4 linked regions of the Homo sapiens genome follow. The protein of the gene in region 4 interacts with the protein of the main gene of each other region in a pairwise test. Each region holds a gene or a part of one and is shown on either strand. Other genes may lie near its edges. The genes, in order: TMED8, TMEM182, SMAGP and SUSD3.

The links.
Region 1: the proteins of SUSD3 (region 4) and TMED8 interact in binary tests that used the Homo sapiens proteins (3 or more experiments, as listed by UniProt).
Region 2: the proteins of SUSD3 (region 4) and TMEM182 interact in binary tests that used the Homo sapiens proteins (3 or more experiments, as listed by UniProt).
Region 3: the proteins of SUSD3 (region 4) and SMAGP interact in binary tests that used the Homo sapiens proteins (3 or more experiments, as listed by UniProt).

What each region holds. Positions count from the first base shown.
Region 1 is NC_000014.9:77,345,791-77,353,514, reverse strand, and holds part of TMED8 (protein TMED8), read left to right. Parts: intron 1-1,763; coding exon 1,764-1,842; intron 1,843-7,034; exon of another isoform or gene 7,035-7,036; coding exon 7,037-7,166; intron 7,167-7,724.
Region 2 is NC_000002.12:102,764,469-102,772,192, reverse strand, and holds part of TMEM182 (transmembrane protein 182 isoform a precursor), read right to left. Parts: intron 1-7,724. UniProt on the Homo sapiens protein: Negatively regulates myogenesis and skeletal muscle regeneration via its association with ITGB1. Modulates ITGB1 activation by decreasing ITGB1-LAMB1 interaction and inhibiting ITGB1-mediated intracellular signaling during myogenesis.
Region 3 is NC_000012.12:51,266,881-51,274,946, reverse strand, and holds the start of SMAGP (small cell adhesion glycoprotein), read left to right. Parts: upstream 1-4,531; 5' UTR 4,532-4,691; intron 4,692-4,736; exon of another isoform or gene 4,737-4,888; intron 4,889-5,630; 5' UTR 5,631-5,668; coding exon 5,669-5,702; intron 5,703-8,066. UniProt on the Homo sapiens protein: May play a role in epithelial cell-cell contacts. May play a role in tumor invasiveness and metastasis formation.
Region 4 is NC_000009.12:93,075,403-93,083,126, forward strand, and holds part of SUSD3 (sushi domain-containing protein 3), read left to right. Parts: intron 1-33; exon of another isoform or gene 34-80; coding exon of another isoform or gene 81-102; intron 103-381; coding exon 382-570; intron 571-2,443; coding exon 2,444-2,591; intron 2,592-4,068; coding exon 4,069-4,200; intron 4,201-7,724. UniProt on the Homo sapiens protein: May play a role in breast tumorigenesis by promoting estrogen-dependent cell proliferation, cell-cell interactions and migration.

The sequences.
Region 1 (7,724 bases), on a different chromosome or scaffold from region 4:
GTCATAATTGTGTCACTGCACTCCAGCCTGGGTGATAGAGGGAGACCCTGTCCCCCTCCAAAAAAAAAAAAAAAACAAAGAAAAGAAAAGAAAAATAGATCTTGTTCACATATAAAACATGAGACTAAATTAAGCTTGGATTAAAAATTTTGCCTGTCATTTTCACTTTGAGTTTGCTACCAAACTCTGAAACTTTCAATGTTTGAAGTTTACTTAAGTTGCATTTTGTATTGAGAAGTAAACTTCAGTCTTCAGTGTCTTGTTGTCTTACACAGAGGGAGTTTAATGAGGGGCTGTCTAAATGCACTAAACCATATGCTATCTGGGTGTTCAAGGAAAGGCTAAATGAATAACCCACAAAACTAAGTAGCATCTGATGGTTAAGGGCACAACTGCCTGGGTTTGAATCCTGTCTCTATGCCTTAAGTTCCTTACTGCAAAAATGGCTGTGATAAGACCAGCCATACATAGGCTTCTTTTGAGCTTGAGAACATGGCCTTCATTATGCATTTCACCTATATACTCCTTGAGGGCACCTAGTTATTCAGTAAATCATTGGTAAATGAGTGATTGAATAAATAAATGAAAATACAAAAGTCCTTTACCTGACCTTGGGTACATTGATCTGAGCTTATTGAATGTAGAAGTGACACTTTATACTTTGATGCTAAATTCAGTTTATCTTACATCCCACTCTGCCCTCTATGTTCTGCCTAATTTAACCATCTGCTTTCTGAGGAATATGATTTCTTTCTTTTTATTAATTTTTTTTAATTGAGTTGGAGTCTCGCTCTGTCGCCCAGGCTGGAGTGCAGTGGTGTGATCTCAGCTCACTGCAACCTCCACCTCCTGGGTTCAAGTGACTCTCCTGCCTCAGCCTCCTGAGTAGCTGGGATTACAGCTGCGTGCCACCATGCCCGGCTAATTTTTATATTTTTAGTAGAGACATGGTTTCGCCATGTTGGCCAGGCTGGTCTCGAACTCCTGACCTCAAGTGATCCGCCCACCTCGGCCTCCCAAAGTGCTGGGATTACAAGTGTGAGCCACCGTGCCTGGCCCTATTTTTTTTTTAATTTTTAAAATTTATTATTATTATTTTTGAGACGGAGTTTTGCTGTTGTTGCCCAGGCTGGAGTGCAATGGTGTGATCTCTGCTCACTGCAACCTCCGCCTCCCGGGTTCAAGTGATTCTTCTGCCTCAGCCTACCAAGTAGCTAGGATTACAGGTGTGCACCATCATGCCTGGCTAATTTTGTATTTTTAGTAGAGATGGGGTTTCACTGTGTTGATCAGGCTGGTCTTGAACTCCTGACTCACCTCAGCCTCCCAAAGTGCTGGGATTACAGGCATGAACCACTGCATCTGGCCTTAATTTTTTTTAGAGACAGGGTCTTGCTCTGTTGCCCAGGCTGGTTTTGAACTCCTGGTCTCAAGCAATCCTCCTGCCTTGGCCTCCCAAAGTGTTGGGATTATAGGTGTGAGCCACTTCACCTGGCAGAAATATGATTCTTAAATTAGGATTAATTTTTGGAGCCTTGTTTTAGAAATGATTTATTTTTTATGAATGAGATATGACTGTCTGAGAATACTTGGATGTGATGACTTGAATAATTTATGTGTTGGGCCTCTGAGAGTATAAAGTTCATACCAGAATATTTTTGGGAAGAATTTGGTTGAAATTGCTAGATTTTTTTAAAGGTACAAGATAATTATGATTGTATTCCCTCTCAGATATTGAATTCTTTCTTTCTATGGTTTTCTAGAGAATGAAGATCTAGAAAACAAGGATACCTCTTTATTGGCTTCTGCCACCGATCCAGAACCCTGCTCCTCACCCCACAGGTAACCACTTTGGATAGAATGCTTTCACAGGTTTTATCTTCTGAGATGAGGAACTGGTGAAAGAAATAGGTAGTGACTTTAAGCGGGGAGGCAAGTTAAAGTAAAGAATGTGGGCCGGGCGCAGTGGCTCACGCCTGTAATCCCAGCACTTTGGGAGGCCAAGGCGGGTGGATCACGAGGTCAGGAGATCGAGACCATCCTGGCTAGCACAGTGAAACCCCGTCTCTACTAAAAATCCAAAAAAAAAAAAAAAAAAAAAAATTAGCGGGGCGTGGTGGCCAGACTACACGCCTGTAGTAGCTGGGACTACAGGCGCGCACCACCACGCCTGGCTAATTTTTGTATTTTTTAGTAGAGACGGGGTTTCATCATATTGGACAGGCTGGTCTCGAACTCCTGACCTTGTGATCCGCCCACCTCGGCCTCCCAAAGTGCTGGGATTACAGGCGTGAGCCACCGCGCCGGGCCAGGGATTTAATTTTTAACTTTTGTTTCTAACATTTGCTGAGTGAAGATAAAAATCCAGTGAATGTGATGCCTGAGGCTTACTTCTTATGCTTATGTGTCTATTGGAAATGGAAACGGCACAACTTTCTATCTTTTCTAGTGAGGCTGGCTTGCCGGCCAGGCTCTCCCCTTCCTTTGAGATGGCCTCCCTGCTCCAGGTCAGTACAAACCAGAAGCTTAAAGCGGAGGCTTTTCCTTTATGTGGCTTATCACCAGCATCAAATAATTTGAAATTAATCTTTCCCCAAATGCCCTTTTCTAATTCTCCAGAGCATAAAATGCTAATTGTGAATATTAAATTTATGTGGGTGGCACATATCCTGTTTAACATAATTTTATTATTTAATTATTTCTTGAGACAGAGTCTTGCTTTGTTGCCCAGGCTGGAGCACGGTAGGCAGTCATAACTCACTGCAGCCTCAAGCTCCTGGACCATGCAACCCTCCCATCTCAGCCTTGTGAGTAGCTAGGACCACAGGCATGAGCCACCACACCGAGCCTTAAAATATGTTTTTTAAATAAGCAGAACCATGTTTTTTCAGAGTAGCATGCACAAAGACAAAGAGACAATTTTAGATGTCACACACAGTAAGTCAAGCTAATGATTCAGATAGCCTGTTGTAGTCTCACCTTTCCAATATTATAAATGATAGTCTGATCCAGAATTTCTCTTTTATTCCCAGGCAAAAATTAACTTATTCATTTTTTATTCAACAAATATTTTGGGGCTAATATTTATTCAACAGATGTTTGTTGGGAGCCTACCATGTACCTGATACTGTTCTAGGTACTAAAGAAACCACAAATGAACAAAATAGTCCATCACTGCTCTCAGGGAGCTTATGTTCTAGTGGGGGAAGTGGACAGAAAACAATTACACATCATACTTCACAGACTCTTAAGTTGCCGTCAACTGTAAGTTGTGCTTTCACGTCCCACCAAGAGAGGAAGAAATGCTTAAGATGGATCATCTAATAGACCCCCCATATGCAACTGGGATACCAAAAACCTGCACCTTCAGTGAAAATATAAAGACAAAAATCCCCCACACAGAAAAGGACAGCAAGGAAGCTTGATTGTCTCAAACTTGACACTGTGTCATAGGAGGAAAAAATATCTCCCCTGAGAATAGGAACCACCAGTTGGTATTAGCCAGTGTCTTGTCTAAATTCACTCTGCCAGGAGGATTAAACAAAACCCTAAACAGAGAACTTAATTTCAAGAAGTCTCAGATTGGTAGCATTCCTAAGTACTGGCAGAAGCAAATGCAAATCTCTCGTGGAAAGAGTTGATGTCAATCCAGGCCCACGGCACTTTTAAGATATCATCAATTTTTAAGACATCCTATCTTTCAGTTGTGTTAAAATCTAAAAGCCAGTGTGCATCTTGCAATCAACAAAATATGCTCCATATCATGTCAGGCAGTAATAGGTGCAGTGAAGAAAAATGAAGCTGGGTAAGGGCAGAAACAGTGACAAGGCCAGGAAGGGGCACACATTTTATATACAGACCTCTGAGAAACCTCTCAGCAGAAAACCTGCAGGAAGGAAGTCTTCAGTTAACTAAAGAAGAGTTAATGTCCTAGAAGAGTATTCTAGGCAGAGATTACAGCAAATGCAAAAGCTCTCAAGTGGGAGAGTACTTGGGGTGTTTGAGGACTATCAAGGATTGAAGAGGCTGTTGTGGCTGGAGGGACCAGGGCAGAGTGAGGATTCTGAGAGGTGAGGTCAGAGTGCAAAGGGCCTTAGGGCTGGGCGAGGTGGCTCACGCCTGTAATCCCAGCACTTTGGGAGGCAGAGGCGGGTGGATCATCTGAGGTCAGAAGTTTGAGACCACCCTGGCCAACATGGTGAAACCCCGTCTCTATTAAAAATACAAAAAATTAGCCAGGCATGGTGGTGCACACCTGTAGTCCCAGCTACTCAGGAGGCTGAGGCAAGAGAATTGCTTGAACCAGGGAGGCAGAGTTGCAGTGAGCCGAGATCCGAGATCATGCCACTACACCCCAGCTTGGGCGACAGAGCAAGACTCTGTCTCCAAAAAAAAAAAAAAAAAAAAAGGGCCTTAGAGTTCCAGGTGGCAGGCTTGGTTCCCAGTGCTGTGCATACAGAGGCAGTGAGACCCAGTGCCTGCCACCAAGCTTACTTTCTAGTAGAGGAGGCAGATGATACACAGTGTCAAGAAACAGAAATGGACTATAATTTCTGGGTTGAAGAGCATTAAAATAGACCCACAGCCTAGGCCAGTTTACAGCTTACACTGAATTACCCAAGTGAACCTATAAAGATCAACAGAATCCCACAGCTCTGATTCTTGGAGTGACCTCCTCTTGTCTGTCCTGAGGTAGGTTGGAGTAATTTTGGATATTCCAAAAGATGGCTCTGTTTTATCTGAAGGAGTGATTCTTCTTGTTTATGTTAAAAAAGAAAAGAAACAAACTAATAAACTCTAAAATGAAGCCTCCGTTTCCCCCATGAGGTGTATACTACCATTTTCCAGTCATTTACTCAACCTCTTTGAGGAAATGATGCCCTCAAGCAGGGATTCTCAGACCTTTATACTCTTAAAAATTATTAAGGACCCAAAGAATTTTTGTTTGTGTGGGTTATATCTATCAATATTTACTATATTAGAAATTAAAACAGCCGGGCGCGGTGGCTCATGCCTGTAATCCCAGCACTTTGGGAGGCCAAGGTGGGTGGATCACGAGGTCAGGAGATCGAGACCATCCTGGCTAACATGGTGAAACCACGTCTCTACTAAAAATACAAAAAAATTAGCTGGGTGTGGTGGCCGGCGCCTGTAGTCCCAGCTACTCGGGAGGGTGAGGCAGGAGAACGGAGTGAACCCGGGAGGCGGAGCTTGAGTGAGCTGAGATCGCGCCACTGCACTCCAGCCTGGGCGACAGAGTGAGACTCCGTCTCAAAAAAAAAAAGAAATTAAAACTGAAAAATTAGAATATGGTTATTTGTTCATTTAAAAATAATAACTCATGACATGCTATATATAAAACATGTTTTTACTTAAAAACAACTAATTTTCAAAGCAAAGAATGTAGTACAAAGAGAGACATAAATCTCTTTAATGTTTGGCTTAATAAAAGGCAGTTGGATTCTCAGCTCTGCTTCTGAGTTCATTCTATTGCGGTATCACATGTCATATAGTCTCTGGAAAATTCCACTGCACACTCTTGAGAAAATGAGAATGAAAAAAGGGAAATAACATTTTAGTGTTATTATGAAACAGTTTGAACTTCATAGACTCCCCCGAAGGGCCCCTAGACCATACTTGGATAACTGCCATTCAAAAAAATCCATGTCACCTTTTATCAGCAACAGATTCCCAAAAGGCCTGGGTTATTTTGCTACAACCGTGGCACTAATTTTCTAGTTTTTGTGAGGCCAGGGGAAATGGAAGAGAGCATAAATCATTCCCTTGCATCTTTATAATCAACTATTCATGGCTGAGCACGGTGGCTCACGCCTGTAATCCTAGTACTTTGGGAGGCCGAGGCAGGCAGATCACCTGAGGTCGGGAGTTCAAGACCAGCCTGACCAACAACATGGAGAAACACTGTCTCTACTAAAAATACAAAATTAGCCGGGTGTCGTGGCACATGCCTGTGATCCCAGCTACTCGGGAGGCTGAGGCAGGAGAATTGCTTGAGGTTGTGGTGAGATGCATCACTGGTGCACTCTGCCAAAAAACAAACAACTATTCACATAGCTGTGTTTGAAGCCATTGGGATTGTTGATTAATGTGCTTTAAAAAGGAGAGAAAGTGATGACCCCTAGCACTGAACGGGGACAGGGTATGAAACGGATCTGCTGAAAGACTGCCTCAGGGATAACTGCAGAGAGGGTTGCCTTGATCATCATTTTGTACTTTGTTTTGGTGCCCAGTCTCCCTTAGGCAGACCTCCTCCTTTTGCTTCTAGCCAGTGGCTTTGTGTGTAGAACTGAACTGAGATTCTACCAATTCCTCGGTTAAAATTCTGTGGGCCCTGTGGGCCGCAGAGTGAGGAATAACATTGGAACTCACAGAAGCCGAGGGCAGGATGGTGGTTAATAGGTGTTGGGGCCAGGGGGTGGGATGGGGAGATGTTGGTCAAGTGGTATAAGGTGTTAGAAGGAGGAACAAGTTCTGGAGATCTTTGTACAACATGGTGACAATAGTTAATAACAATGTATACTTGAAAATTGCTAAGACAGTAGATTTTAAATGTTCTCACCACAAAAAGGAGTATGTGAGGGGATGGATATGTTAATTAGCTCAATTTAATCATTTTACAATGTGTACATATATCAAAACAGCACATTGTACACCATAAATATATACACTTTGTCAACTAAAATAAATAAATAAAAGAAACAACAATGACAAAAAAAAAAAAAAAAAAAAAAAACCAGACCAGCAGTCCATCTCAGATGATGGAGCTGTGTGTTTTCCATGGTTCTCCTAGCCTTTGACCTGGCCTTGTTAGTCTTTGTTTTCACACTGTCAACACTTTACTGTGGACCAATTCAGCCCTGGGCAGTGGTCGGCTAAGGTGACAGTAGAGCTAAATAAATGCCAGGGGCAGGTGGGGCAGGGGGTATCTCGAATGTTGTTTTATTTCAAAGTTTCTCCAGGATGATTGAGTCTTTTCAAAGAGTCCTTGAATTAACATGCTCTCTTCCTCTGAGAGGCCACAGATGGTATCTCCAGTGAGTAAGGATGCCACGGAAGATCTGCGGAAAGCAACTGGTCCTTTGGAGGCTCAGGCCTTGGTGAAACAGGATTTGCTGCCTGCAGACCAGGCCCAGGTCCTCAATGAGGTAGGGGGCAGATTCTGGCTCTTTCTTATGAAAGGAGGCACCAGAATGTGGACACATAGTGGTTGGGTTGGAATTAGAAAGCACTGCGAGGGTGGCTCCCGGAATTCTCTCTTTGCCCTCTAATTTAGGGCATCTTGGTCTTCATTATTTTTTGGAGAATGATTATTTGTATCTTCCACAGGGCCCATCATTGTACTGGCACCCAGTAGGCACCGATTCAGAAAACGAAGTGTTAGAGTGAATGTTCATGTGTTCTCTAAAATCCTCTTCATTGAGGAGCCTGAAGTCATTGGACTATTTTGCTCTTACTTTTCTTGTGGTAGATCTATTTAGTATTTATGATAAAGATTCCACAGAAGCTTTTTTTTTTTTTTTTTTTTGAGACAGGGTCTCCCTCTGTCGCCCAGGCTGGAGTGCAGTGGCACGATCTTGGCTCACTGCAACCTCCACCTCCTGGGTTCAAGTGATTGTCCCACCTCGCCTCCCGAGTAGCTGGGATTACAGGCACATGCCACCACACCCGGCTAATTTTTGTATTTTTAGTAGAGGCAGGGCTTC
Region 2 (7,724 bases), on a different chromosome or scaffold from region 4:
AGGCAGAAGCCATAATGCTTCAAGATAAGAGAGGCCCAGACAGCTCCTTTCTCCTTCGGGGTTTGAATACCCTGCATGAAAGAAGGCAGTGGAAGGAAGCTATTCTTGTGTGTGTTTGGGCCCAGACCTGGAGCTGAGCACACAGTGTAAGCAGTATGAGTATAATTTCAAAGAAGATCCTGGGCCTGGGTTAGAAGTTTTGGGACTAAATGTCTAGATGGCCTCAGTGATTTTCATTAGAGGGTGATTTTGTGCCCACCCACACCCAGGACACCTGGCAATGTCTGGAGGCATTTTTAGTTATCATAACTGGGATCTACTGGGTAGAGGCAAAGGGGTGCCACTAAACATCCCACAATACACAGGACAGTCCCACAACAAAGAATTATCTGGCCCACAATGTCCACAGTGTGAAGGTTGAGAAATCCTGCTGTACACATCAGGAGTTCCTAGCGTGAGAGGAGATTTCTGCTTCTAAGTGTGGAAGGCATTTTCAGGGATCTCCTGAAGCCTCCATGGAGGTGGAAGCCTGTCCTTTGCAAAGGGAACCCAGGCCATGCTGCTGGGATAATCACAGGTCTTGTTTTCAGAAAGCGATTGCCTCTCATCGTTGCAGGGATATTACATAAACTGCCAACCAATTCTCAGAAGCCCACAAATAAATTGTACAGAACACAAAATGGCACTCTCTGAAAAAAGGTGATTTTTAAGTACGGCCTTGATGTTGTGCCCTAGAACTTTCAAGCCAACTCTACCCTCAAGAGCTGGAGTGTGTGGAAGCCCAGTGAGCCACTCTGGGAGTGGCCCCAAGCCTGCATGCAATGGAGCCTGGGCTGGGGTCCCAGATGAAAGTCAGCTGTTATTCAGGAACTGCAGCCACTCCTGTAACGTGATACTGTGTCTGTGGTGATGGCTGTGTGATCCCAAATGTCTGAACGAATACCAGCAAATTAAGTTGATGTTAGGCATTTCCAAATATCTAAGTACTTGACATTTATGGGAAAAGGAGGCTAAGTTGCATTTTCCATTACATTTTGTGGTGCATAGTTTTTTCTAGCTAACTAAAACACAGTGGAAGTATTTGGAGTGATTTGCTGTATTTAGGACAATGTCCAGAATCCCCATACATGAACACCCAAAAAACTGATAAATAAGACCCAGCTACCACAGAGTAATCGATCTGCAAGCCAGAGGTGGGGGTATCTCAATGAGATTAGATACCTACAACAGGTTGATGTGCCTCCTAAATTATTTAAGAATTTACATTTTTATAAACTCTAGACTCAAATCTTAATTCTTCCTGTGCTGTTTCAAACTGCCAAATGTAAGGACATTCATGTTTGTAGTTTATTTTGCCTTGCATGGTAAAGCAAGTTGTTGTGTGTGGATGTGGCTGTTTTTATAAGGACTCTGTACCCTCTGCCATGCTGTGCTCTGTTGGTGGCTATTCCAAGCCGCAGTGTTGGCTGATTGAAAAGGTCTCTACTTCCTCACTGCTCACTCCCCAAGCATCCGTGTGCGGTTTCACATTCCCATCATTCTGATACAACCCCTTTGTGAGATCACTGCTGTCTAACCTCTCTTCCTGTGAGAAGAGAAGAAAGGAGGAAGCCTGAGGTAGGGTTTGGCTCTCAGGAGGATCCTCAGGTGACAAAATGTGCAGGAAAATGGAATGGGATCCCTGAGGGAGGAAGTGCATTGCAGGGTAAAGAGGACAGAGTCCTCAGGTCCTGTCTAAGAGAATGAGCAGTGAACCGGGATGGGATACACAGCAGATGATCTGGAAGTGTCAGGTGGATTTAGGATAGAAGTAGGTGCCTGGAACAAGGAGACTTTAATGGGTGTCTGTAGCTGAGCCCTTGGTGAAGACGGAGCTACTGGGCCCCAAGAACTTTTGCATCATTGGCTTATGATCCAATTCCTTCCTGCCTGCTTCTCATGTCCATTCATTCTGCGTTTGACATTGAAGACCACTGCCTCCTTCCCAAGAAAATGCACCAGACTGCTCGCTGACTTGTTTCTTAATGCTTCTTTCTCTCCCTCATTTGTGGGCTGTCTTTCTTCTTCCCTTCTTCCCCTAAGAATAATTGGTATTTTACTGTCTTCTTTCCTATGATTGTTTTCCTTAAAGATTATATTTGAAATCAAAAATCACCTCTGCAATTTCTCATCAGTATCAATGATTATAATTAATGACTTTCAGGAAAACCAGTTTTGCATATCAAGCTACTTGCTGAATGATTATTACAAACTGGTATTCCACCATCAACTCAAGTTTAATACGTCCAAACCAAAGTAAATCACCATGCTCTACTTCAAAACATGCCCCCTCCTCTTAACTCTCAGATTTCTGTCCATCTTACCAACTTTTCTTAGTCAAAAGTAATTCACAGTTTAGTACCAGTTGGCAAGCAATTTTATAGTATGGCACAATAACAACACCAAAGAAAACTTATTCCTATATTTTGAGTCACTATTCATACTTCTGAAAATATAGCCCAAAGAGTAAATACAAATTATTAAAAAATGCTACATACATAGAATTATTTTTGATGCAGAGGTAGCAACCAACATGTTTAAAATTTGAGAAATCACTAAGTAAATACATGGGGAAATGTGTGCTAACATAAAAACAGAAAAGCAAGATAGACATGTATAGTTATGATGATTAAAACAGAATATAATATGCATATAAAAGGATTAAAAACCCACTAAAATAATACTTATTGTTTGAAGGTATGTGTCCACATTACTTTTTACTGTATGTTATTTAAACTGAATTACACCTATTTGAAAAGGAAACTTCTTCATCATCCTTGATCCCTCCAGCTCTTTTTTGTTTGGCTACCAATTTTACATGTTAACTCCTCACATATCAATTATATTCTTTATTTCCTTTTCATTTTTACTGTCCCACCTTTGTTCAACCCCTGATGATACTGATTCACTGAATGATTTTGATTTTCATTCACTCCCAGGCTTTCTCCATTTCCCTTCTGTGTTGCTAGACAGCCCAAAACAACATGTCCCAAGCAGAGGGATATGTGGCATTGTTCTGATGAATAAAACATTGGCAGAAACTGACTGTTAAATTCTGGAAGCACTTCCTCTTTTCTGAGGATGAAAGAGCATGAAGGTGACTGTCCACCCCCAAGGATGGTAGAAGAAACAGTTGACAGAGCCTGGGTTCCTGGCAGCATCATTGTGGAAGCTGCTTCTGACCCTCTTGTTCCAGGAGAAAAATAACCTTTTTGTTTTCTGTTACTTGCAGCCTAATGCATTGCCAACTAACATCTTGCCTCGCTGCCTCCCTGCTTGTAGCCTCACATCATTCACTTCAGCTTACACTTCTATAAGGGTGAAAGAAGAAAAGACCAGAAAATAGTACTAGATAAATAAACATTGACAATAAAAGCAAAACACAGCTGGCAGGCGAAAACAATGTGGAAGACCAAAAATTACAAAAAGCACGCAAAAAAATAAATTTTTTTTGAGATGGAGTCTTGCTCTGTTGCCCAGGCTGGAGTGCAGTGGCATGATCTCAGCTCATCGCAACCTCCGCCTCCCAGGTTCAAGCAATTCTCATGCCTCAGCCTCCTGAGTAGTTGGGATTGCAGATGTGCACCACCCCTCCTGGCTAATTTTTTTGTGTGTGTTTTTTTTTTTTTTAGTACAGATAGGATTTCACCATGTTGGCCAGGCTGGTCTCTAACTGACCTCAAGTGATCTGCCCGCCTCAGCCTTCCAAAGTGTTGGGATTACAACACTTTGGCTACCATGCCTGGCCAAACAAATTTTTTAAAGAGTTGTGTAGGTCCATTTAGTAAAGAGCTAAAGAAATTCTGCACATCAATAGTGACTTAGGGCATCAGTATTAATACCACAGTACAGTGTAATAATGAAGTCTCCCCAAAATATGCATTCAGCTTTTGGTCTACAGTGGATAAAATAGTGAGTCAAACATACAAGACTCCCACTCTCATGGAGCTTAGAATTGAACTAGAAAAAAAGTATATGAACAAGATAATTACATGAGTAAATAATTTAAAACTGTGCTATGAATTATCAAATTAAAGACTGGGTTTTATAAAGGAGAGCATGGCCCAGTGCATGTACCAGTGGCGTAGGGGCAGGTAAGGAAGTCTTCCTTGGGAAACTGAAGTTTGAACTAGCTGGAGATAAACCCGCTCTGTTAGAAAAATGAACAGAGGAGGAGGAAGGAAGAGAGGAACAGCATTTGGGGAAGTTTAGGGCAGGTCCTGGGGCAAGGGGACAGATACTGAGATGGAGGACCTTAAAGAAGGTCAGATGGCTCACCCCCATAAGTATATATTTGTTCCCACTCATCAAGAAAAGATGAAATTGTGTTCATTGCATTCTGCTTCAGAAGAAACTAAAAGTATGCAATTGAGTTTCTAAACATTTCCACTTGGAAAAATAAAATCAAACTAGTTTATTGCAGAAAATAGTAACTGTAATTTTGCATAAAGTCATTCTAGACATATTTTTAAGCATCTAGTAATTACCAGGAACTATGCTTTGGAGAGCTCAAATAAATAATGAAGGAACTGAAGTAAACAAACAATTCCAGTTAAGCATAACGAGCACTCTGATAGAGGGGTCATCAAAGGCTATGGGGACACTGAGAAGGCAAAAAATTAATTCTCTCAGGGTTGAATTGTCTTGAAAATTCATTTATGTTCAGTACATCGTTGCCAAATGATACCAAACAAGTGAACTGTGACTGAATGTAAACATGAAACAAACCAGAAAATCTAGACTCTGACAACTCTCCAAAGGTAATAGAATTGTTTAATGCACTTAGAAGTACACAAGCCTACCTCAAAAGCAATTCTGTGAATTAGACCACCCTCACCAGGCCTGGCCAGTCATTCAAATAACTAGATTTGAGGATAATTGAATTTCAGAATATGTATTTGAGATTCTTTTAAAAGAAAGAAAACACTGAATTAGACCTGATCATACACACAAGTCAGAATTGAATATAAAGGTAGAAAGAGCCAATGTAAGTTTAATTTGTTCTTTTGTTAAGATACAAATTAAAGACATATTTTTAATAGTATGCACTACAATTAGCCTTTTCATTCATTGTAGTTTAGTAGATTATCGATGAAACAAAAGCCAGAGACTTGGTTCTTTGCACTGGCTCTGCCAATAAGCAGCTGTATGAAGACAGAGTCACATGATTTCTCTGATTCCCAGTCTCCTTATTATAAAAGGATAATTTCATCGGTAGTGTCCTATAATTCTAAAATTGTTACTCCAGAAAAATCATACACCACTATATTATTTTCACTGAATTCAATATTGGCTAACTGCAATTGTAAAAACTCAGGACACTATAAAGCCATTTCACCAACAATTTGCCAGGCCACAATACATCAGAATTTATAAATGATACTTTCAATTTACCAAAGGTGACCTGGCAAGTATCTGATGTTGGGTAATTGTGAAGCTACATGAAACTTAATAGTAGCTCTAAAGCATAGTGAAGTATACATAGTCTCATTAACTAGGAAACCATACTGAAAAGTCAGGTACAAAGCTTCCAATGAAATCTATACCTTTCTCTTGGATACAGGAAAGAAACAAAAAAACCCCAAATTTAACAAAGATAATATCAAATTTCCTTGTATATTATTATGGAGATGAGTGAAACTTGTGTATAGTATTTCTGTTGTAGAACACATCTTTGCACATCTCAATCATTTCTACCTAAAGTGATTGACAAAGTTTCTGAAAGTAAATGAGTTCCAATACGTGTGCCAATGAGGAATTTGATAATTTAAAAAAATTGGATTTGGTTTTGTCACTAGATCAAAAAAGTGACACACTAATTAAATGCAGTGCTACATAATAATTTTAAGTGTAACTGCAGTATAATTTTTCTGACATGTATTTACAATCCATCTCCATCATAATTATCATGCACAGATTATGTTACTTTGTTTTTCAAGTTCTCCACTATCTCCTTGAAGTGCAGGCTTTTCAAATATGGGATCATTTTTAAATATACAGTGCCTACAATACCTATCTTATCACAGGACCTCATTATATGAATAACAACAATACTAGTATTTATGCTAATACCTAATGTTCTGGAAAGCCAACCTTGTATTACTTTTCAGTTCATTTTATAAAAGTAAGAATGTTGGGGAAGGAGCATCATTTTCTAGCTTGTCTGTAAAACAAAAGAGTTTCTCCTATTCTTTCCTATGCCATCCATCTCTTCCCTTACTAGTGACAGGTAGGCTTGTATACTTCTAAGTCCATTAGACATGACACAAAGGTTTTGACAAATGTGAGTGAGGTGCCTTCTGCAGTTTTTAATGGGAAGGAGCATCCATACCACACATGTTTTCAAGGAAAATGGTCCCAGTCCTTCGAACCCAAGGAATCCTGGTGGACAAGCACAGCTGTGGGTCAGCTCACCTCTTTCCCTATCCAGACCTCATACCCTCTTTATAAGTGTCCTATTAATGATGTAATACAAGCAAATGTTACATTCTTTGACAAAACTAAAAATTATAATGTATGGAATTACATATTTAACAGGAAGATGAAAAATAGTTCCATGTAAAGATGTGTTGAGTTCTGTGATGGTTATTGTTATATATCCACTAGGTTGGATTATGGTGCCAAGTTGTTGGGTCAAATACCAGCTTAATATTGCTGTGAAGGTATTTTTAGATGCAATTAGCTTTTATAATCCCTTGACTTTGAGTAGAGCAGATTACCCCCTACCCCATACTATGAGCGGGCCTCATCCAATCAGTTGAAGATTTAAAGAGAAAAAACAGGTGTCCTGAGGAAAAAGAAAGTCAGCTTCCAGATTGCAGAAGAAAAATTCTACTGGAGTGTCCAGCCTTCAGACTGGAGATTGCAACATCAGCTCTGACCTGAATCTCCAGCCTGCCAATTGCCCTGTAGATTTCAGACTCACCAGGCCTTACAATCACTCTCTCTCACTCTCTATGTGTGTATGTGTATGTGCACATGCATATGTATATACATGTATGTGTGTATATAATATATATTTATGTGTTCTATTGTTTCTCTTTTTTCTGGAGAACCCTGACTAATATTAATTTATTGAGAACATTAAATATAATAGCTACTATTTTTGAAAAACACTTTTTTGTTCTATATATGACATTGATAGTCTGTATCAACCCTTAGCAAGTTATTACAAATTTCATGTTCTTAATGTGATTTTAAGTTAATGATATCTGTCTGTCTGTCTCCTATGGGATATTACACACACAGAGTTCAGTCATTTTGTATAAATATAGTAGCATAATTACATATTTATATCATATATATTTATTGTATACATATTATATATTTATCTGTGATATTCTCATGTGTAATGATGACATAAAGTTTTAGAAGTATGATGTATATTACAATATTCTCAACTGTAGGACTCGTTTTAGGTCTGTTAAAACCTTAAGAAGCGGTTCTTCTTAATAAATATTACTATCTTCATATGGGAAAACACATTTAAAAATACTTTTATAGGCAGCTAGTAAATTACAATGACTTTACTTTTAGATCAAAGTTATGTTCTTTAAAATTATAAATGGCACATTAAAAATAACATTTTTTAATCTAACAGATATCAAAAATATTGAAATTACAGGTCTTAAATTATTTTTTTAATTGCTCACAACAATTTTGATCTGGGCATCCTTCAGAAAGAT
Region 3 (8,066 bases), on a different chromosome or scaffold from region 4:
TGCTGAGCATGTGCATATTGGATCTATTTTTCTGTATGACTACACTTTTAAAATGAGGTATGTTGGCTGGGAGCAGTGGCTCATGCCTATAATCCCAGCACTTTGGGAGGCCGAGGCAGGTGGATCACTCAAGGTCAGGAGTTTGAGACCAGCCTGGCCAACATGGTGAAACCCTGTCTCTACTAAAAATACAAAAGTTAGCCAGGCCTGGTGGTGTGGACCTGTAATCCCAGCTACTCCAGAGGCTAAGGCATGAGAATCACTTGAACCTGGGAGGCAGAGGTTGCAGTGAGCTGAGATGGAGCCACTGCACTCCAACCTGGACGACAGAGTGAGACTCCACCTCAAAAAATAAAATGAGGTATGTGACTACATAAAAAAATTAATAAATAATGTATCAGGCCAGGCGTGGTGGCTCATGCCTGTAATCCCAGCGCTTTGGGAGGCTGAGCCGGGTGGATCACCTGAGGTCAGGAGTTCGAGACCAGCCTGGCCAACATGGCGAAACTCTGTCTCTACTAAAAATACAAAAAATTATCCGGGCCTGATGGCAGACGCCTGTAATCCCAGCTATTTGGGAGGCTGAGGCAGAAGAATTGCTTGAACCCGGGAGGCGGAGGTTGCAGTGAGCCGATATCACGCCATTGCACTCCAGCCTGGGTGATAGAGCAAGACTCTTGTCTCCAAAAAAAAAAAAAAAAATCAAGTATCAGCAAACCTTCTAAGGTTACATTTTATTCATTTTTATTATTATTTTTTTTTGAGATGGAGTCTCACCCTGTTGCCAGACTGGAGTGCAGTGGTGTGATCTCTGCTCACTGAAACCTCCGCCTCCCAGGTTTAAGCGATTCTCCTGCCTCAGCGTCTTGAGCAGCTGGGATAACAGGCATGCGCCACCATGCTCGACTAATTTTTGTATTTTTATTAGAGTTGGGGTTTCACCATGTTGGCCAGGATGGTCTCGATCTCTCAACCTTGTGATCTGCCCGCCTCGGCCTCCCAAAGTGCTGGGATTACAGGCGTGAGCCACTGTGCCTGGCCTATTTTTATTTTTTTAATGTTTAATTTTTGTGGGTTCATAGGAGGTATATATATTTATGGGGTACATGAGTTTTTTTGTTTTTTTTTTTTTGAGACAGAGTCTTGCTCTGTTGCCCAGGCTGGAGTGCAGTGGCACAGTCTCAGCTCACTGCAAGCTCTGCCTCCCGGGTTCATGCCATTCTCCTGCCTCAGCCTCCCCAGTAGCTGGGACTACAGGTGCCTGCCACCACGCCTGCCTAATTTTTTGTATTTTTAGTAGAGACGGGGTTTCACCATGTTAGCCAGGATGGTCTTGATCTCCTGACTTTGTGATCCGCCTGCCAAAGTGCTGGGATTACAGGTGTGAGCCACCATGCCCGGCCTCATGAGATGTTTTGATATAAGCATGCAATGCATAATAAAATCATATCATGGAGAATGGAGTATCCATCCCCTTAAGCATTTATCTTTTGTGTTAAAAACAATCCAATTACACTATTTTAGTTATTTTTAAATGTACAATTAAGTTATTATTTATAGTCACCCTGTTGTGCTACCAAATAGTAGGTCTTAAGGTCTTATTCTTTTTTTTTTTTTTTTTGTACCCATTAATCATCCCCACCTCCCTCCCTAAGGTTACTTTTTTTTGGTTGAGGGGAAAGGATCTTGCTATATCTCCCAGGCTGGAGTGCAGCCTTCACCCCCAGGGCTCAAGTGATCCTCCCACCTCAGCCTCCTGACTAGCTGGGACCACAGGTGCATGCCACGACTCCTGTCTAACTTTTTTTGTATTTTGTAGAGACAGTGTTTCAACATGTTGCCCAGGCTGGTCTCAAACTCCTAGGCTTAAGTGATCTGCCCACTGTGGCCTCCCAAAGTGCTGGGATTATAGGTGTAAGGTTACTTGTTTTTTTTTTTTTTTGAGTCAGAGTCTCACTCTGTTGCCCAGGCTGGAGTGCGTTGGTGCAATCTCGGCTCACTGCAACCTCCACCTCCAGGGTGCAAAAAGGTTCTCCTGCCTCAGACTCCGAAGTAGCTGGGATTACAGGCTCCCGCCACCACACTCAGCTAATTTTTGTATTTTTAGTAGAGACGTGGTTTCGCCATGTTGGCCAGGCTGATCTCGAACTCCTGACCTCAGGTGATCTGCCTGCCTTGGCCTCCCAAAGTGCTGAGATTACAGGCGTGAGCCACTGCGCCCCACCAGTTACATTTTAAAGAGAAAAAAAAGATGCTTATTGAAAGAACATTACTAACAACTGTCGAAATTGTGAAAGTGACAGCAAATCAGTAGAGTCAGTCAGTTGAGCCAGATAGCCTCTGAGTCTGTAGTTCTTTTTTTCTTTTTTTTTTGTCGCCCAGGCTGGAGTGCAGTGGCACAATCTCGGCTCACTGCAACCTCCGCCTCCCGGGTTCAAGCGATTCTCCTGCCTCAGCCTCCCCATTAGCTCGGATTACAGGCGCCTGCCACCACGTCCAGCTAATTTTTATATTTTTAGTAGAGACAGGGTTTCACTGTGTTGGCCAGGCTGGTCTTGAACTCCTGACCTTGTGATCCACCCGCCTCGGCCTCCCAAAGTGCTGGGATTACAAGTGTGAGCCACCGCGCCTGGCTGAGTCTATAGTTCTAAACAATCTTCAACACATAATAGAAAATGTGAAAGAGACAGACCCAGGTCCAAGAACGATCTGAACTTCTCCTGGAATTCATGATCAAGGTGGACAGCTAGAAGTATGTCAATGCCAGCAATTGTCCTCCTTTGGATTTAGCCCTCTAGGATTTTAATTTCCTTTTCTCTTGGATATTCTCTTATCTAAGGACAAGCCAGGCTCACCTTTCTTTTATTAAGTTACATATGCATAGCTGGCATATCACTTTCTTTGCCTTTCTTGGTTGGATTGGCATTTTCCCATGCACATATTTACATATATTTCTCACAATATATTTATATAAAATGAATTTCATCACTTTTTTATTGTTTGTTTTCCTCCTGTATTTGTGTTTGTTTTTTTCTTTTGAGACGGAGTTTTGCTGTTGTTGCCCAGGCTGGAGTGCAATGGTGTGATCTCGCCTCACTGCAACCTCTGCCTCCCAGGTTCAAGCAATTCTCGTGCCTCAGCCTCCAGAGTAGCAGGGATTACAGGTGTGTGCCACCACGCCCAGCGGATTTTGTATTTTTAGTAGAGACAGGGTTTCACCTTGTTGGCCAGACTGGTCTCAAACTACTGACCTCAAGTGATCCACCCGCCTCCCAAAGTGCTGGGAGCCACAGTGCCCTGCCCTCTGGTTTCTTTTATAATGAACACTTTAGGAATAAAAGCAACTACTCTTGCTTTGCTTGTGACTTTGTTTTGTTTTCTCCCTTTATGCCTCTCTCCTCTGAGACCTTCCCTTTCGGTCTGTTCCCGGATTAACATGCACAATCTGATGATGCCTGTCTTTCTACAGAAAGTATTTCTGTATAAATACTGGTTTACAAACCTACAGAACGCCTAGGAGTGCGAAGTAAGCACAGAAGTCTATCACTGGGAGGGAAAGAATAATCACAAGGGTTCCAATCCTAAACGGGAAGCCAAGGTAACAAGACCTAGCGTTTATTGAGCACTTACTATGTGCCAGGCAAGGTTCTAATGCCTTACAGTACATATTTACTAACCTATTTCGTCCCAACAGTCACTCTATTCAGACAGGTATTGCCCCAGATAAGAGAAACGGAACAGAAGCAGCTTGTCCAAGATCACACAGCAGAGCTGATTCCAGTGCCTGCGCTATATACTATTACATCCTCTTAGTCACTGAATTCTTCTGATTAATTTGGGAACATTTCCTGCCACAAACGAGTGAGTCAAGAGGTAGCTAAAGCATGGCACTGATTATTCAAATTGAGGTGCTCACCATGCTTCTAGAACCATGGATATGAGATGGCTTTACAGGCATGATCACTTTCAGACCCGCATTTTAGGAATGAGGAAACAGATTTTCGAGATGTTAATTTGCCCAAAGTCACCCAGCTAGCAAGCAGAAGAGCTGGGGCTGTTTGAATCCAAAGTCCACGGCACTCCTAACCGCTGCTCAACGCTGCCCCACAAGAACGTCCAGCTGGCAAGACCCGGGTGGGGCTCGTTGCTCTCCCCGCTTCACCTCCCTGCTTCACGGCCGGGGGTGTGCTGGCTAAGTTCGCTCATCTGCCAAGCTTCAGGACACAGACCTATGTGAGCAAGCGATAAACAAATGCAAATAAATGTAACTTTCCACATTAGCTAAAAATTCAGAGAACGTCAAGCCCAGGGAAATGGGACGGATCCCAGTTAGCCCGCGGCTCCAATCTGGTCCCCCCCCAACCCCGAGCCTCGCGGCGAGAAAGGAAGCGGCTCCGGATGGAGAGTAAAGTGACAATCGGAGAAGGGCAGGCTGCCTTTCCTCCCGGGGGAGCCAAGGGGACCTGCAGAGGGCGGTTTCTCTCCGCTTTTCCTGTCCCACCCCGTCGGCCTGCCCCCCACCCCCTCCGGCCTCTGCGCCAACCCCGCGCGCCACCCGCGGCTTCCTCCGCTCGGGGTCCTCGTTCGGCCTCTGCTGGCCTCCGCGACTCCGCGGTGCCCGCCCCCGTTGAGTTCAAAAGGACGCGCGGAGCGGCGCCGGCCCTTCACCAGCAGCCCGTCCGACTGGAAAGGTGAGCACGAGGGAAGGGCGGGGGCGCCGGAGAGCCGGGTCGCCCACATTCGCCGCAGCCACCTCGGCCGTGGCAGGAACCGAAACCCGGAGCGGCCGAAGCTCAGCGCTCCGCTGGGGCAGAGGGTCGCGGCGGCTGGGAACGCCGCTCCCCGACGCACCGGCCGCCCCCAGCGCAGCGCGCTCCGCGGGGTGCTGGTAACGCGGGGGGCTCGGGGCGGGGGCGGGGACGGGGGCGGGGCCGCGGGGCGAGGACCAACCCAGCCCGTCGCGTCCACCCCGCGTTCGCAGGGGCGTCGAGGATCTCCGGGGCGCGGGGCGCGGGCTGGGGCCCAGTGAGGCTTGGCAGGCTGTGCGCGGACCGCGCCCTGGACGGCGAAAGCAGGCCCGGAGGGGGCGGCCAGTCCGGCGTCCCAGCGTCCGAGGCGAGCCAGAAGGCGGCCCACGGCCGTCGCCTCCCGGTCCCGGCCCGGCTACTGCGCTGCGCCCACTCCGCTCTGGAGCCTGGGCGCGGGTCCTGACCTTCCCGGCCCTCTCCTGACACCTGGTGGATGGCGTCACCAGAACTCCTAGCTGTGGAACCCTAGGGTACCTGTTACCGCGCTTTGGCGAAACTGGGTTCGCTGCTGATTTGCGAACCTTTGCCTGACTTTCTCAGGCCTTGAGAGATCTAAGTAAATTTGGTGGCCCATTGAAAGGACCTGGAGAGAGCGTATGAAGGTAACACCCCGTCAAACTGCATGCGGCCTCAGACCTGCTCCTGTGGAGAGCTGTTGGTACCTGGAGCCTGAGGAGATATTCAGGGAAACCAGAAGAGGACAAGAGAAAAAGGGGAAGGGACTTGGGAGAACCTGGCACCAGAGGCTTTCCTGGGACTTCCAGGACTCAAAGCCATAGGGGCCCACCCGCTACATTCCTGTCTTTGCCCCTCTTCCTACAGATCTGCCTCTTCTCCAAGAAACTCAACCACTAGTGACAATGACCAGCCTCCTGACTACTCCTTCTCCAAGAGGTAGGTGAAGGCCTTTCCTAATCCCAGTGAGAAAGAATTGTTCAACATCCCCTTCCCCAGACCAGTCCTGGAAGCCTCAGCCCAGGTGGGAAGACTCCCACCTCTCTCTGCCTGCCTCACACAGGAAGGGCCTGGGAGGAAGCAGGAACTAGAGTGTGCCCCTTAGTACGGTTTTAATCTGAAGTCACATGGACATGGTGACTTCACAAATCTTTGTAACCTCGGTTTATCAAATAATTTTATGTCGGTAATCCCAGGACTTTGGGAGACTGAGACAGGAGGATCTCTTGAGGCTAGGTGTTTGAGACCTGCCTGGGGAACATAGTGAGACCCCATTGCTAATTCAAAAGAAAGAAAGAGGCCGGGCGTGGTGGCTCATGCTTGTAATGCCAGCAGTTTGGGAGGTCGAGGTGGGCGGATCATCTGAGGTCAGGAGTTTGAGACCAGCCTGGCCAACATGGTGAAACTCCATCTCTACTAAAAATACAAAAAAATTAGCCAGGCGTGGTGGTGCACGCCTGTAATCCCAACTACTCAGGAGGCTGAGGCATGGGAATCGCTTGAACCTGGGAAGCACAGGTGAGCCGAGATCGTGCCATTGCACTCCAGCCTGGGCAACAAAGTGAGACCGGTCTCAAAAAATAGGAAGGGAGGGAGGAAAGGAAAGGAAGGAAGGAAGGAAGGAAGGAAGATTATTGTATAAGCCTAAAGGAAGGGCTTTACATTCATCTGTCTAATAATTTATAGCTATGGCAAAGAATGTAGCAGAAACCCTTGTAATTAAATGTGGAAAAGGAATCTTCAAAGATAACAGGGAAATCATTTTTTAAAAACCTGCTAAAGATAGTATTGCTAACCTCTAAGCTCCGGTTTCATCATTCACAAAATAGGGAAAATAGTACCTATCTTATGATTTATGAAGATTAAATGAGACAACCCATATAAAACACCTAGAAGAGTGTGTAGTATCTCGTAAGCACTCAGTCACGTTGGTTATTAGCACTGAGTACTTGTTAGAAACCCATCTTTCCCTTGAAAGTGATTTTGCTGGCTTTCTCATTCCACTCCTCTGGTGATACAGACCCAGCATCAAAACCCCATTGTTCCCTGAAGGTGTGCGGAGGCCGGGCACTACTGCTCAGCACTCTGAGAATGGATGCCCACCTTTTAGTTCATCATCAGGCTGGGCCGGACAAACTATCAGTTATTTATTGACTGTTTTCAGCATGTGCTAGTTAGGGAGAGAGAGGAACAAACCCTTGGTTGGTCTATACACCTTTGTCTTCCTATACACAGTCACATTTGTCATTAGGACAGGCATTCTCTGCTTTTACTGATGTGGAAACAGGTGAGTGACACCACCAGTGGAAGTCTAAGACAGTGTCCTCTGTGACTGGTAATGCACACAATTCAGACTTTTAGTTGTCTGGTGAGAAGAGATAAAAGAGAGAAATGGCCAGGTATGGTGGCTCACGCCTGTAATTCCAGCACTCTGGGAGGTTGAGGCAGGCAGACTGAGCTCAGGAGTTCGAGATCAGCCTGGGCAACATGGCGAAACCCCATCTCTACAAAAAAATTTAAAAATTAGCCGGGCTTGGTGGTAGACACCTGTGGTTCCAGCTACTCCAAAGGCTTAGGTGGGAGGATCCCTTGAGCCCAGGAGATGGAGGTTGCAATGAGCCGAGATCATGCCACTGCACTCCGGCCTAGGTGACAGAGCAAGACCCTGTCTTAAAAAAAAAAAAAAAGAGTTAGGGGGACACGGAGTGGGGGGGGGGAATAGGTCAGCAAAGGCTTCATGGGTGGGTGAGGAAGGGGATCTGAGTCTTGCCCTTGAAAGACGGACAAGGTTCATACAGGCAAAGGGGCGCAGCAGGTATCTTAGAGAAACGTAGAATACCTTTTTCGTGTGTACCTGCTCTAGATAAAGGTAGAATACCTCATACCATGTGTGAAGCTACAGAGACGATTTACCCTGGAGGATGTTCAGGAAGCGGGTGGGCAGAGGACCTCCAGAATAATCCTGCCCACAAGGGAAAAAAGGTGATACCTTGGCAGCTAGCTGAGGGATTAGAACCTTGGCAAGGGGGAGCTGTTTACATTTTTTAAATTTTATTATTATTATTTTTGAGACCAAGTCTTGCTGTGTCACCCAGGCTGGAGTACAGTGGCTTAATTTCGGTTCACTGCAACCTCCGCCCCCTGGGTTCAAGCAATTCTCCCACCTTAGTCTCCCTAGTAGCTGGAATTACAGGCGTGCGCTACCACGCCTGGCTAATTTGTATACTTTTAGTGGAGACAGGGTTTCGCCATGTTGGCCAGGCTGGTCTCAAACTCCTGGCCTCAAGTGATCTGCCCTTCTCG
Region 4 (7,724 bases):
CTGTCCCTCTTTTTTTTTTTTTTTTTTTTTTTGTTCTGATTTCTGCCTTTGGAGCCGTGTTTAGGTCATAATCAAAGGCCATGCCTCAGTGTCTCAGGGAAGGTATGTTTGCTTTTATTGTCTTCTAACACTTATTTCTTTTTTTAATGCTCCAATCCTCAACATCTAGAGTGTACTTCATGGAGGGATCCAGCTCTGCGTTGTCCCCCGGTCTGGATGACCCCATGTGACCTCTAGAGCATCCAATGGCCTTTGGAGCTGCACCCCACCCCTGTGCTCCCCAATGCTGTGCCAGCTCCTCACTCCAGGGTCCTGCCCAGCCCTGCCCTGCGTGCCCACCCCCCCCCCCCCGCCATGCCTCATACCTGCCTGTCTCCCCAGGCACGTGCGCTAAGCTGCGGCTACCCCCGCAAGCAACCTTCCAAGTCCTTCGTGGCAATGGTGCTTCCGTGGGGACCGTGCTCATGTTCCGCTGCCCCTCCAACCACCAGATGGTGGGGTCTGGGCTCCTCACCTGCACCTGGAAGGGGAGCATCGCTGAGTGGTCTTCAGGGTCCCCAGTGTGCAAACGTAAGGACCCCTCTCTCAGCTCGGTGGCTCTGGGGGTGGGGGATGGCCCCAAATCCTGTCATGGGGATGGTGTGGGTGGGGATGGCGTGGGTGTCTACTCACAAGCAGCTAGGCCAGTGTGTAGGGTCCCATTCCCAACACTGACAGCTTGCTTACATGTCAGCAGCCGGCTGTAGGCCCTCAGCCCTCCCAGTGCCATGTTGGCAGCACGGACCGAAAACCTAGTAGCGGGCCTCCAATCCTGGCTCTGCTACCGACTCAGCCCCTCACCGCCAAGAGGCTGTGCATGCTCTCTGAGCCAGCACGTTTTCATCTGTTAAGCAGGAAACTATGTTTGTTCATTCATTCATTCATTCATTCATTCATTCATGTACAGGTGCACATGGCCAACTTTAATAGGATATTTCACGTATCAGGAATCTTAAGTACTGGCAACACGGAAGGTCATAACGTGCCTGGCCCTGGAGCTCCCAGTCTGTGGGAGGCAATGGTTTTCTGGTTGTATTTCTTGTACAGGTGTTGAAAGGTCCACAAGATAGTCCCTTTTCAGTGCCCAGCATGACATTTCCAAAATGAAGCTATGTGTGTTATGTTCATGTGTTTTGTGCATAAAAAGGGCTCAGAGTCAAAATAGTTTGGCAGATTCTGGGTTTTTATGCTGCAGAACTTCTCAGAGCCTTTAAAATGTTCACGTGCTAGGTGATTCTCTGAGGATGCGAGTGTTAGGATTAGATTCTGAAAGGCAGAAAACCCAAAATACTAGGATTAACTATGATGGAGCTCAACCTTCAGGGTGGGCAGGCAGATCTGTATAGGCTCCATGGCAGTGGGAGCCAGGCCCCTTCCCTGGCATGGCTCTGCTGGGCATGGCCTCAGCCTCATGATTCAAGATGGCAGCAGCTATGTTCCAGGCAGCTGTTATGGGGTGAGGGGCCCTGGGGCCAAAGAGCAGGCCCCAGTGTCTCAGGGAAGGTTCTTAGAAGTTGCCCCACATCACTTCTTATCTTCCACTGGCCAGAACATGGTCCTGTGACCACTGGGAAATGTAGTCTCCATTTTGGGTGGCCAGGATCCACTAGGGAGCATGGGAAATGGGGCAGGGGACAGGGCCATGTTCTCTACGTGGGGGAGTAAACGGTGTTGCTCAAATTAGGATTCCGAGGCCTTTTTTAGCCAGAACATCCAGTAGAATCTGATGGAACTAGTTTTTGGAGCATAGCTGAGGTCACACAGCAGATACATAGTATTTTGGACCTTCCTGGAAAGTGACCTGAGAAGGCATGTAGGCCCCCTGAAGAATGTTGCCACCTTGGGGCATTGTGAAAACCCAGACCATGGGCTGGGCAAGGCCTCCTCAGTACTGTCTATTGTCACCTCCTCTCTGTGGCCCACCCTTCCTTCATTCCTCAGGCAGGACTTCAGTGGGTAGGAGCCAAGGAGGCCATCACTCTGAACTCCCTGCCAGAACTTCTGTAATTGACCACTCTGCAGACTTCTACATACCCTACAAAACCCTGCTCAAATACCCTCTTCAGTTAGCCACTCTGCACACTCCTACACACCCTGGAAAACCCTGCTTAAATACCCCCTTTAAATAGCCACTCTGCATACTCCTACACACCCTGCTCAAATAACCTGCTTCTTGGGGAGAGTCTTCTCTGATAGTCCCACCTCCAAATATAGTTTGCACAGATCTTTGCCTCAGCCCCCAGCACCTCACTGCCCCCTTACCATGCAAACAGGGCTCACTGAGGGCTGCCCAGGCCCTGTCTACACCCAGGCCCTACCCGTACCACCCCTGAGACCCCCAACCCCTGGGCCAAGCAAATCTGGGCAAACCTCGCCCAGGAGCTGGTGGTTGTCTCCCACACAGTGGTGCCACCACACGAGACCTTTGGCTTCAAGGTGGCCGTGATCGCCTCCATTGTGAGCTGTGCCATCATCCTGCTCATGTCCATGGCCTTCCTCACCTGCTGCCTCCTCAAGTGCGTGAAGAAGAGCAAGCGGCGGCGCTCCAACAGGTACGGTGGCCTCATGATCTCAGGGTCCTCCCGGGAGGCGCCTCTTGGCACCATGGGAGGAGGAAAGGACAGAGTGTTTCAAGGGAACCCCGGCACTGCCCTCAGGGCACCCGTTCCTACCACTGCTGCTCTGGGCCTGCGTCTCCCCCCCAAGTGCTGCTCCCGGCCCACGCAGCAGCCAGGGGCAGCATCACAGCTGGGGGACATGTGGGCCCCCAAGGCCCTGCTCTTAGGCCAGGCTATGGGTTCACGGGGGATTATTTTATTTATTTATTTTTTTTGAGACGGAGTCTTGCTCTGTCACCCAGGCGACAGAGTACAGTAGCGTGATCTCAGCTCACTGCAACCTCCGCCTCCTGGGTTAAAGCAATTCTCCTGCCTCAGCCTTCCTAGAAGCTGGGATTATAGGTATGTACCACCACACTCGGCTAATTTTTTGTATTTTTAGTGGAGATGGGGTTTCACCATATTGGCCAGGCTGGTCTCAAACTCCTGACCTCTGGTGATCCGCCCAGTGATCTGCCTCCCAAAGTGCTGGGATTACAGGCGTGAGCCACCGCGCCCGGCCCGTTTTATTCTTAAACCTGCACACATATGCAGTATGTACTCTGCTGTGTTAACGGCCTGCAGGGCTGCCACACACGCCCCCTAAACCTTGAGAGGGAGTCACTGTCACTGCAGATGGAGGGCTGGTTAACCACAGCCCACCAGCGAAGTCCGGCTGTCTGTCAGGTTTTTTCCCCATGGTAATTTATTATTATTTTTTGTTTTTATTTTTTATTGTGGTAAAATATCAATACATAAAACTTAACCTTTTTTTTTTTGAGACGGAGTCTCACTCTGTCGCCCAGGCTGGAGTGCAGTGGCTCCATCTCAGCTCACTGCAAGCTCCACCTCCTGGGATCACGCCATTCTCCTGCCTCAGCCTCCCGAGTAGCTGGGACTACAAGCGCCCGCCACCATGCTCAGCTAATTTTTTTTTGTATTTTTAGTACAGACGGGGTTTCACCGTGTTAGCCAGGATGGTCTCGAGCTCCTGACCTCATGATCCACCTGCCACGGCCTCCCAAAGTGCTGGGATTACAGGCATGAGCCACTGCGCCTGGCCAAAACTTAACCTTTTTAACGTCTACAGTTCAGTAGCATTAAGTATGTTCACGATGTAGTGCAGCCATTAGCACTGTCCAGCCCTAGAACTTTCCACCACCTGTATTTGTAAGTAAAGTTTTATTGGAACACAGCCATGTTCATTGTCTACTGGTGTGTGGCTACTTTTGGGCTGCAATTGCAGAGTTTAGCTGTGGGAGAAATCATGTGTCTCACCACACCAAAAACATCCACTGCCCAGCTCTTTGAGAGGTTTGCCAGCCTGCACTGGTCCTGCAGACGGTGCCCTGGGCCTACATGGAGCCTGTTTCCACCACCGTCAGGGATACACCTGCATGCTCAGAGTCCTTCCTCCCAAACTCTCCTCCAGGTCAGCCCAGCTGTGGTCCCAGCTGAAAGATGAGGACTTGGAGACGGTGCAGGCCGCATACCTTGGCCTCAAGCACTTCAACAAACCCGTGAGCGGGCCCAGCCAGGCGCACGACAACCACAGCTTCACCACGTGAGCCCGGGTCTGGGTAGGGGACATGCTGGGGGACAAGGGGTCCAGCTTGGTCAGGCCCCGGGCCACCTGCTGCTCCCACACGCTGAGAGCCTGCTGCTCCCACACGCCTAGCCCACCCAGAACCTTAACTCCCATCTCTAAAACAAGAGGCTGGTGGTCCTTGTAGCACTCTGTCCTGACTCTGACATTCTAGGACTCAGAACTGCCCCCAGCAGTGTTTTCATCTGGAGGGTCCACCCTCCAGGGAAGCTGAAGCTTCTACACACCTGTGTTCCCTCCACCTACACCCAGCAGGGCTCTGCACTGAGCTGCAGTCACTTGCTCTCCCTCCCGTGCTCTGTCCCTCTCCTTTCTCTCTCTCTTAATACACACATACATTTTTTTGCCCTGAACCAATATAAGGACATTCTTTTTCTGAGTCCAGAAATTTAATACTGATTGGCCAGGCTTGGTGGCTCACACCTGTAATCCCAGCAGTTTGGGAGGCTGAGGTGGGAGGATCACCTGAGGTCAGGAGTTCGAGGCCAACATGGTGAAATCCCGTCTCTACTAAAAACACAAACATTACCTGGGTGTGGCGGAGTGTGCCTTTAATCCCAGCTACTTGGGAGGCAGAGACAGGAGAATCACTTGAACCCAGGAGGCGGAGCTTGTAGTGAGCCAAGGTTGTGCCACCGCACTCCAGCCTGGGCGACAGAGCGAGACTCCGTCTCAAAAAAAAAAAAAAAAAAAAAACAAAACTAACAGAAATCTAATATTGATTGCACGTGGCCTGTTGAGTGGAGAATGTCCATAATCACACGCAGCACTCAGCCACCAGGTCTCTGGGCTCCTTAAACTGGTATGGGCCTTCAGTTTTTCATGGCATAGTCTTCTGAGGGTTCCAGGCCAGTGGTCGCATGCAGAGGCTCCTGTCTGCGTCTGTCTGGTGTTTCTGTGTGACCAGGCCCGGCTCTGCATTTCTGGTGCAGGGCTACATGTGCAGATCACAGACATGGGCCAGGCTGCCCCCACGGGCCACATGGAATGGGGTCTCTTGGCTGAGGCGAAGCCCCCCAGGTCCCTCCACTGTCAGAGCCTGAGGAAGGGGCTCTGCAAGTGTCCCTCCACTGTCTCAGCGGCCTCTGACTTGTGGTCTCAGCGTGCAAGGCTGATCCTGCCAGATCCGCTCTTGCCTTGGGCATTACAGAATGGTGACTTTGTTAATTCTGTTGCACTTCTGACATTCCTTCTATCAGGGATGAGGATGAGCTGTTTTTTTCTTTCCTTTCTTTTGATTTTGTTTTGTTGTTTTAGCATCACATGAACTCATGAATATTCTTTTCTGAAACTTTTATTTTGGGAAAAGTTCACAAATACACAAAAGTAGAATATTGTCACAGATCTCCTGTCCCTGCCTCCCATTCTCATGGTCACCAGCTAAGCCAGGCAACCTCATTCATGCCCCTTCCCCCACATTATTTTCAAGCACACTTTTTGTGGGCTCCAGTTCTTGGCAGTAGGAGCTCTGCCAAGCCATGGCCTGTGTCCTTCTGATCCATCCCCATCAGTCTGTGAGTGCTTCCTGCCTTGCACAAGATGTTCCAGGCCCATCTCATGCTTTCTGTGCCCATCTCTGCGGTTGGCCACTGCTCTGGGAGCCCTGTTTCTGTGGGTGGAGAACAGCGCTTAGACACCGGGGTCTGGGCGGGCATCCAGACGACATCATTGAGCTTGTGTTCCCTTCCTTCAGGCCCTCCTGCTGGAGTCTTTCGAGGCTGCAGTGCACTTGGTCCCAGCCCTCATGGCCTCACTGTATGACTAACAGCTCCATGCCTCGGTTTCCTCACCTGTAAAGTGAGGATTGCAGTAGCGCTCACCCTTTCAAGTTGTTGAGGTTACCTGAGTCCGGGTGTGTGCCTCTCTCGCCAGGCCCAGGGTGAGAGCTCATTGAATACTGGCTGTTACTGTCGTTGCCACTCTTACGACCTTATGCAGATGGGGAAACTGAGGCACAGGAGATGGTGGTCTCTGTGGCCCTGGGTTACACACACCGTGCTGGGTCTGGCCAACACCTGCAGGGAAGGAATTCACCTTTCTGTCTCCTTTCCTGACGCTTCAAGTGTGTATTACATCAACAAGGATGTAGCCGAAATGCTGCCATTGATACTTCTGCACTTAGCAACACGTTCCAGGTCACCATGGTGGTCTGAGGCCTCCAGGCTATCATTCCTTACAGCAGCCCATTATTCCAAAGCTTCCAATATCTGCTAGACCCTCCCCTGTTGAGTGGTCAGGCGTGGTCAGTGTCTTTTTGCTTAGTGCTGTTTTTCTTTTTCAAGACCACAACTCTTGGGGCTGATCCTAGGAATCGATTGTTTAGGCCCAACAGTCTGAATATTTTATGACCACATTCTTTCCCTGGGAGCTCTGGTACAAGTGAATGTGGCCATATTTTTCTGGTAACTGCATCATCACTGAGTGCTGACCATTTGTTTATCATTTGTTTCTTACAGTAGCTACAAGTTGTGTGGGTAGTTTCCGTCAGCATTTCTTTGATGAATGTCGAGGAAGAATGTTTTCTCCAGCCTTGGCTCACCAGTGCCATTGCTGGCATGAGTCATTTTCTGTTTTCTCTGCTGAATTACCTCCAAATGTTTTGCTCCATGTGTTGTGGGAGGGCACCTGACCCATCAATTGGCTGTACATTTTTTAGGCCTCTTTCCTTTTTTTTTTTTTTTTTTTTTTTTTGAGGCGGAGTCTTGCTCTGTCGTCCAGGCTGGAGTTCAGTGGCGCGATCTCGGCTCACTGCAAGCTCCGCCTCCCGGGTTCACACCATTCTCCTGCCTCAGCCTCCCAAGTAGCTGGGACCACAGGTGTCCGCCACCATGCCCAGCTAATTTTTTGTATTTTTAGTAGAGACAGGGTTTCACTGTGTTAGCCAGGATGGTCTCGATCTCCTCACCTCGTGATCTGCCCACCTCGGCCTCCCAAAGTGCTGGGATTACAGGCGTGAGCCACCGTGCCTGACCCCCTTTCCTTTTTATTTTAGTTTTGTTGGGGCCATGGTGGCTAATGCCTTTCCTTTTGGGTAGTGAGATATCCAAAGCCACTTTCAGAGCTCCTCCATTGCCCCACCTGTGATCCCCACTCCCCATTACAGCACTGGGACCAGATCATCCTGTGTCATAACTGGGAAAGTGCCCATGGAATGGGGGAAGGAACAATTGCCTCTCAAGGCAACATGGTGTCCAGGATGATGGCAGCCACAGCTGCTGCCGCTGCCGCAGGGGCTTTGCTGGCCAGAGCATGATGCCGAGGGGCTCCCAGGGGTGCTGTTTGGGGCCACACTTCTGCCTGGTCCCAGCGCCACAGACCCTGCCTCTTACACTGCGGGAACTTGTGCAGTGTGTGGTCGGACGTGTGCGTCCCGTCCAAGAGTGGCCACAGATCTGTGTACAGGGCTGTGTTCACCCCCTCTGGGGAGTGAGAGAGCCAGGGCGGGAGGGAGGCACCCTGACAGGGCCGTGAGAGGCTGGAGG